Linked DNA regions of Homo sapiens. The protein of the gene in region 2 purifies or fractionates together with the protein of the main gene of each other region. This does not show direct contact. Each region holds a gene or a part of one and is shown on either strand. Other genes may lie near its edges. The genes, in order: ZBTB4 and ZBTB17.

Region 1 (3,806 bases), on a different chromosome or scaffold from region 2:
CAGGCTGGTCTCGAACTCCTGGGCTCAAGTGATCCTTCTGCCTCGGCCTCCCAAAGTGCTGGGATGACATGCATGAGCCACTGAAACTGGCCCAACTGCTTCTCTTTTTTTTTTGCGGCGGGGGACAGAGTCTAGCTCTGTCGCCCAGGCTGGAGTGCAGTGGCACAATCTTGGCTCACTGCAACCTCCGCCTCCCGGGTTCAAGAGATTCTCCTGCCTCAACCTCACGAGTCACTGGGACTATAGGCGCGCGCCACCATTTTTTTTTTTTTTTTTTTTGAGACTGAGTCTCGCTCTGTCGCCCAGGCTGGAGTGCAGTGGTGCGATCTTGGCTCACTGCAAGCTCCGCCTCCCGGGTTCACGCCATTCTCCTGCCTCAGCCTCCGGAGTAGCTGGGACTACAGGCACCCACCACCACTCCCGGCTAATTTTTTTTTGTATTTTTAGTAGAGACGGGGTTTCACCATGTTAGCCAGGATGGTCTCCATCTCCTGACCTTGTGATCTGCCCACTTCGGCATCCCAAAGTGCAGGGATTACAGGCATGAGCCACCGCGCCTGGCCAGGCCCGGATAATTTTTGTATTTTTAGTAGAGATGGGGTTTCACCATGTCGGCCTGGCTGGTCTTAAACTCCTGACCTCAGGTGATCTGCCCGCCTCAGCCTCCCAAAGTGCTGGGATTACAGAGCCTGGTCAATTATTTATCTTTTTTTGAGACAGGATCTTGCTCTGTTGCCCAGGCTGCAGTACAATGGTGAGATTGAGGCTCACTGCAGCCTTAACCTCCTGGGCTCAAATGATCCTCTCACCTGTCAGCCTTCTGAGTAGCTGGGACTACAGGTACCTGCCACCATGCCCAGATAATTTTTGTATTTTTTGTAGAGATGAGGTTTCACCATGTTCCCCAGGGCTGGTATTGAAATCCTGGTCTCAAGCAATCCGCCCAGCTCAGCATCCCAAAGTGCTGGGATCATAGTGGAAAGCCACTGCGCCCAGCTCCTATTTCTTATTTATCTCTGGAATGTAAGCTCCAAGGGGTAAAAGGTAGGAATGTTTTTGGTTTTGTTTTGTTTTTGAGATGGATGGCATCTTGCTCTGTTGCCCAGGCTGGAGTGCAGTGGCATGATCTCTCTCGGCTCACTGCAACCTCTGCCTCCTGGGTTCAAGCAATTTTCCTGCCTCAGCCTCCCAAAAACCTGGAACTACAGGCATATGCCACCACACCCGGCTAATTTTTATATTTTTAGTAGAGACAGGGTTTCACCATGTTGACCAGGCTGGTCTCGAACTCCTGACCTCAGGTGATCCACCCGCCTTGGCCTCCCTCCCAAAGCGCTGGAATTACAGGCATGAGCCACCATGGCCAGACTTTTTTTTTTTTTGACATGAGGTCTTGCTTTGTCACCCAGGCTGTAGTGCAGTGGTGTTACCACAGCTCCCTGCAGCCTTGACCTCCCCTAGGCTCAGGTGATTCTCTCATTACAGCCTCCCAAGTAGCTGGGACTACGGGCATATGCCACCACGCCCAGCGAATTTTTTGTATTTTTAGTAGAGATAGGGCTTCACCATGTTGCCCAGGTTGGTCTCGAACTCCTGGGATCAAGCAATTCACCGCCTTGGACACCCAAAGTGTTGGAATTACAGGTGTGAGCCACAGCGCCCGGCCAAGGGTAGGGAATTTTGTCTGCTTTGTTCATTGCCGTATCTGAAGTCGTTAGAATAGGGCCTAGCACGTAATAGGTGGTAAAAACAAAACAAAAAAACTGGTAAATGAATGAACCTGTCCTCAAAGTCCATCCTCCAGGATGGAAGCCATCGTCCACGCTGGACTGAGTTGGCCTGGAGATAGGGATGACAATTATAACTTGACCACTTCTGGGCCAGGCACAGTGGCGCACACCTGTAATCCCAGCACTTTGGGAGGCTGAGGCGGGCAGATCACTTGAGGTCAGGAGTTCCAGACCAGCCTGGCCAACATGATGAAACCCCATCTGTACTAAAAATACAAAAATTAGCTGGGTGTGGTGGTGCACGCTTGTAACCCCAGCTACTCAGGTGGCTGAGGCAGGAGAATTGCTTGAACCGGGGAGGTGGCGGTTGCAGCGAGCAGAGATTGCGCCACTGCATTCCAGCCTGGGCGACAGAGTGAGACTCTGCCTCAAAAAAAAAAAAAAAAAAAAAAAAGGCCAGGTATGGCCAACTCACGCCTGTAATCCCAGCACTTTGGGAGGCCAAGGCAGGTGGATCACCTGAGGTCAGGGATTGACCACCTGCCTAGCCAACATGGTGAGACCAGCCTGGCCAACATGGTGAAACTTGGTCTCTACTGAAAATAAAAAATTAGCTGGGCGTAGTGGCGGGCGCCTGTAACCCCAGCTACCCGGGAGGCTGAGGCAGGAGAATCACCTGAACCCGGAAGGCGGAGGTTGCAGTGAGCCAAGATCATGCCATTGCATTCCAGCCTGGGTAACAAGAGAGAAATTCCGTCTCAAAAAAAAATTAAAAGAAACCATAAATAAGTTGACCACTCTGGAGTCCTCACAATTTGCCTCATACTCTTCTTGGGGCCTCACACACATTACCTCATTTAATGATATTCTCAGTACAGCCACCCACAATAGGTTTTATATTATCCTGTTGCCCAGGCTGGAGCGCAGTGGCGTGATCTCGGCTCACTGCAACCTCCGTCTCCTGGGTTCAAGCAATTCTCCTGCCTCAGCCTCCAGAGTAGCTGGGATTCCACGCCCAGCTAGTTTTTTTATTTTTAGTAGAGACAGGGTTTCTCCATGTTGGCCAGGCTGGTCTTGAACTCCTGACCTCAGGTGATCCACCTGCCTTGGCTTCCCAAAGTTCTGGGATTACAGGCATGGGCCACTGCGCCCGGCCATATTATTCTAATTTTACAGAAGAGGAAACCGAGGCTCAGAGAGGGATATACCTTACTCGAGGTCGCACAGCTTGTAAGCAGCAGTCAAGATTCGAATCCAGGCCCAGCTGACCCCAGATGCTCAATCTTTCCCTCTGCCATACTGCTAGACCTGGCCCTGAAGAGGCCTATGGCCCGCCAGCTGGTTACATAAACCACCGCACAAGGTCTCACGTGCTAAGTGCTAAATGTGTCATGTCTGACTCCACCCTTTCCCTCACTTCCACATCCAGCAGTCATCAAGTGTGGCTGAAATCGCCGCCGAGCTTGGGAATGGCTCTGGAAATCTTCCCTTCGATAGCTCAGGTCCTTGTTAACACTCACGTGGTCCAAGGTTATGGCCTCCCAGCTATCCCCTGGCCTCCAGGCTTACCTTCCTCCATCCAGCCCTCCTCCCCCTGAGGGTCAACGTCCCTAACCACAGTTCAGGACTATCACTCCTGGGCTCAAAACCTCCACTGGTCCCCACTGACTCTAGAAGAAAGTTCAAATTCTTCTACCAGGCAGTCAAGGGCTCTGGTCTAGCTCCAATCTTCCTTTTTAATCTTGCCTTGTGTTATCCTCTTCAAACACACAGTACTCAGCGTGAGCCAGGCGTGATGGCAGATACCCATAGTCCCAGCTACTCAGGAGGCTGCAGCTAGAGGATTGCTTGAGCCCAGGAGTTTGAGTCCAGCCTGGGCAATATATTGAGACCCAGTTTCTAAACAAATGAACAAAACCCCAGACACCCAGTGTGCTCTCCAGCTTCTACATGACCCACACCTTCATGCCTTTGCCTGTGCTGGCTTGTTCTGCCAGAAATGCTCTTTCCCCAAGCTTGTCAAAATCCCTCCAAAACGTTAAGATCTGACTCCAAGGCCACCTCCTTCTTGGCCCT
Region 2 (4,039 bases):
GAACCTTCCCAAAAGATGATGGCACCGGCTTGGCCTTAGTCCTCGGGCCAGGTAACCCTGAAGCAAGTGTGGCTTCCATCTGCTCCCTTAGGCCCATCAGAGCCAGGGCAGTGGCCTGGGCCTGGCACTCTCCTTGGCCTACCTTGCCACTCTGGCTGGAAGGACCCCTGAGCCAGGCCTGGCAGCAGTGGCCTGTGAGCCAGGCTCGCTCTGGGTTGCCTGTACCCTGGTAAGCAGTTGGTGGCCGCCCCTGCTGGTCCCTTCCCCAACTTCCCAACCTCTCCCCAACCTGGGCCGAGGGGGAGCAGGGTCATAGCTGTGGGGCGAGGGGAGGCCAGGCCCTAAAGATGAACAGGTGAGAAGCCTCCAAACAAGATGGGATGAGGGCATGGGGCACGTGGTGCCGAGGTCTCTCCAGCCTGAGTGTACTGCCCACTCCTCAACTTGGGGCAAAGCAGCCAGCCTGGCTCTGATTCTAGTCGCATTCAGCAAGAGGGACGGGCTGACCTTCCCAGGAAGGCTGGTTCCTGGGTGGTACAGCCTTTCTGTGGCATCAGTTGTAGCTGCCAGCTCCCCACCCACCCCACAGGGACCTATAGGCAGCATTAGAAAATAATCCAATTTATTCTCTCTAGGGAACAGGCCACCCTTCCCGGTTCCAGGGTGCCATCCATCCTTAAATAAACAGTCAGAAGGGCCGCCAGCTCACTCGGCAGGCGGGGGACATTCAGGAGCTGTAGGGGAGGTCTCTGCCAGTGCGGGCTGGCCCTCAGCCCCGTCGCGAGGGCGGAAGACCAGCTCCCCAGCCTGCAGCACCTGCCCGGCAGGCCACGTGCCACCTGGCCCATACTGCTGATAGAAGTCCGCGTCTGTCTGGAACATGACCAGTGCCTGGGCTGTGTGGATTCGCACATGCTGAGCCAGGCTGTTGGCATCCAGAAACTTGTCCCCACAGGAGTCACAGGCGTAGAGGATGTGAGTGTTGGGGTCTGTGGAGGTGGGGCAGCAGTCAGAGTGGGAAGGACCCCGGGCTCTGCCCACATTCACACCCGGGTGGCCCCCCTCACCTTCTTCCTGCACTTGCTTCACAGCTTTGCTGATCTCGGCCTTCAGGACTTCCGTCTCATCGGCTGTCACTGCAGCTCCCACCGGCACCACTGCGGGCAGAGTCGCAGGGCCTAAGGTGAAGGCACGGGCACTGCCCCATCATCGCCACCCTGGCAGCAAGCTGCCTGTGACTTCCCTCTGCTGCCCACAGCCCGCACCTGTGAGCTGAGTGACGGCTGTCGCTGCCAGTGCCTCGGTAGCCAGCGTGACCATGTCATCCACAGTGACCACGCTGACCTCACTGCCCTCCTCGGGCTCCAGGATCTTGATGCCTGCCTTGCCCTGGTGCACGGTCTTCACGTGGGAGCGCAGGTTGTCTACCCGGTTGAAGCCACGCCCACACTTATCACACAGGTAAGGCTTCTCTCCTGGGGGAGCAAGGTTCTCTCTTGCCTTTGTGGGAAGGGGCCGCAGGGATGGGGTGGGAGGCCCTCAATGACTCGTTTGCCCAGCAACCCTGTCTTTTACAGCAGGAGGTGCTCTGGGGTGGCTGCACGGGTGCCTCTGGTGACACTGGCACCTCTGGAAGCTCTAGGAAAATGGGGTCCTCATTTGAACAGAACTGCCTTCAAGGCCACCTGCAGCAAGAGCTAGCACCCGAGGCTGGGGTCTGGGGGGTCCCTTCCTTCCCCCTGCTCCCCACCTGGCAGCAGGGCCTGGGAAGGAACAGGCATGGTAGGGGCCACAGCTCACCAGTGTGAATGATGATGTGCTTGGACAGGTCCCCCACGTTCACGAAGGCCTTGCTGCACACGCTGCACTTGTGTGGGCGGATGTTGTCGTGGTGGCGAATATGATTGGCCAACTGGCTGGACTGGACGAATCTGTGGGGCCACAGGAAGGGACTCGCATGGAACTGCCCCAACCTGGGCCTCCTGCCTCACCCTCTAGACTGAAAAGGACCCCTAGGACCAGAGCCTGGGGCGTGGGCAGCAGTCAGCTCAGTCCCCAGCCAAGCCCCCAGTTTGTCTTCTGAGCCCCCTCACTGTGGGGTGTCTGGCCAGTGGGTGTGGGGGAGGGGGCAGGACCTCTTGCCGCAGCGCTCGCAGACGTAGGGCTTCTCCCCGGTGTGCTGGCGCACGTGGGCGATGAGGGAGCTGGCCTGGGTGAAGGCCTTACCGCACATCACACACTGGCATGGCTTCTCACCTGGGGACCGGGCAGAAGGTGTTGGTGCCTGCTCCTCTCCGTGCCCTCCCAGTCCTGGGCATGGCCGCTCACCACCCACCTGTGTGAATGCGGACGTGCCGCTGCAGAGCGCCGGGGTCTGCAAACTGTCGCTGGCAGTGGATGCACACGTAGGGCTTCTCCCCGCTGTGGATCCGAAGGTGCCGCTTCAGGTTCCCTGTGGCGAGACCGAGGGCGAACCTGGCGTGGGGCACCACCGGTGGCCGAGGAGCAGGGGTGTGAGGGCAGCCAGGGCAGCCCTGGCCCTACCTGAGGTGGTGAACTGCTTCCCACACTCTCGGCACTTGAGGGGCCCGTCAGCGATGTGGATCTTCAGGTGGGCCTTCAGGTTCCCTACCTGTGCCCAGGGAGGGGTCAGGGGGGCCACCCCACAGAGCTCGGCCCCGGGCCCCCTCACCTGCCCCTCCCACAAAGGAACAATTGACTCTCAGGCTTGCCAGGGTCCGTGAAGGGCTCTATCTCTCCTGGGTCAGGAGAGGTCCCAGGTCCCAGCGGTGAGAGGTAAGCCGCCCCACCCCATTTTTTCAGGACCAAACCCCGCCCTGAGTCGGCCTGCCCTCCGCAGAGCAACCGGGAGCTCCCCCGCGGAAGTGGCTCTCGCTGCGCCTGTTTCCTGGGTGAACAAGCTGATGAGCTCCTGGAGGCCGGGGCTGTGCTCCCCGCCCGCCCCACCACGTGGCATGCATGCGGCTGCGGCCACCGGCGGCTGCCAGGCGCTGGTTCCGGGAGGGGTCCGCACACCTGGTTGAACTTCTTGTCGCAGTGTGGGCACTTGTGCTCCTTGTCCGTGTCGTGGGTCTCCAGGTGGCGCATCTTGGAAGTGGGGTCGGAGAAGGAGCGGCCGCAGTAGTCGCACTGGTAGGGCTTCTCGCCGCTGTGCACCAGCTGGTGGCGCTTGAGGTTGCCCGAGGTGGTGAAGAGCTTGCCGCAGTCCTCGCAGCGGTAGCGCGCCTCGCCCGAGTGCCGCTTCTTGTGCAGGTTCAGCAGGCTGATGAGGCGGTAGCTCTTCCCGCACTCCTCGCAGCCGTAGGGCTTCAGAGGGCTGCAGGGCCAGAAGGCGACAGGAGGCAGGGCTCGCTGGGGCGTGAAAGGCCGGGCCTGGCAGGGGCCGGGGTAGGAGGCCGGCTTGGGGCAGTACCTGTGCGTCTTCTCATGGGCCTTGCACGCGGCCGGGTCGGAAAAGGCCTTGCTGCACTCCCGGCACGAGAAGGGCTTCTCCCCCGTGTGGATGCGGATGTGCCGCTTGAAGTTCCCCGTGTGCGTGAACTCCTTCCCACAGTCCTGTGGGTGCAGCGGGGAAGCGGGGTGTGAGGAGCAGCCGGTGGGAGGCCGGAGGGGAGGGACGCTGGCTGGGAGGGCTGGCCATAGTCTCCCTCACCTCGCACTTGTGGATGACGGAGCCGTAGGCCTTGGACTCCGTGCGGTCGCCGTAGGTGCCTGAGCGCAGGCCCCGGGCCTCGGAGCCGAGCTCCTGCCCCGAGTCTGTGCCCGCTGACTCCTCATTCTCGTTCTCCTCGGGGGCCTCTCCGTTCTCCAGCTGGGAACCCTCCTCCTTGACCTCAGCTGGCCCTGCGCCCTCCTCCTCTTGCTCCTCTTGCTCCTTTTGCTCCTCTTCCCCTTTCCGGGCGGGCTCCACCTCCATTTCTGCGGAGAAAAGGGCAAGCATGGAGGCGGCAGCCCTCTCTGCCTGAGCGCACGTGAGGGGCGCCGGCAACATGTGGAAGGGACAGTAAATGGCCCCAGC

The links.
Region 1: the proteins of ZBTB17 (region 2) and ZBTB4 purify together in Homo sapiens (affinity purification with western blotting; one study listed by BioGRID). This does not show direct contact.

Annotation. Positions count from the first base shown.
Region 1 is NC_000017.11:7,472,852-7,476,657, forward strand, and holds part of ZBTB4 (zinc finger and BTB domain-containing protein 4), read right to left. Parts: intron 1-3,806. UniProt on the Homo sapiens protein: Transcriptional repressor with bimodal DNA-binding specificity. Represses transcription in a methyl-CpG-dependent manner.
Region 2 is NC_000001.11:15,941,264-15,945,302, forward strand, and holds the end of ZBTB17 (zinc finger and BTB domain-containing protein 17), read right to left. Parts: intron 3,940-4,039; coding exon 3,674-3,939; intron 3,577-3,673; coding exon 3,434-3,576; intron 3,338-3,433; coding exon 3,037-3,337; intron 2,633-3,036; coding exon 2,545-2,632; intron 2,453-2,544; coding exon 2,336-2,452; intron 2,257-2,335; coding exon 2,136-2,256; intron 1,932-2,135; coding exon 1,801-1,931; intron 1,476-1,800; coding exon 1,266-1,475; intron 1,179-1,265; coding exon of another isoform or gene 1,158-1,178; coding exon 1,068-1,157; intron 990-1,067; coding exon 706-989; 3' UTR 606-705; downstream 1-605. UniProt on the Homo sapiens protein: Transcription factor that can function as an activator or repressor depending on its binding partners, and by targeting negative regulators of cell cycle progression.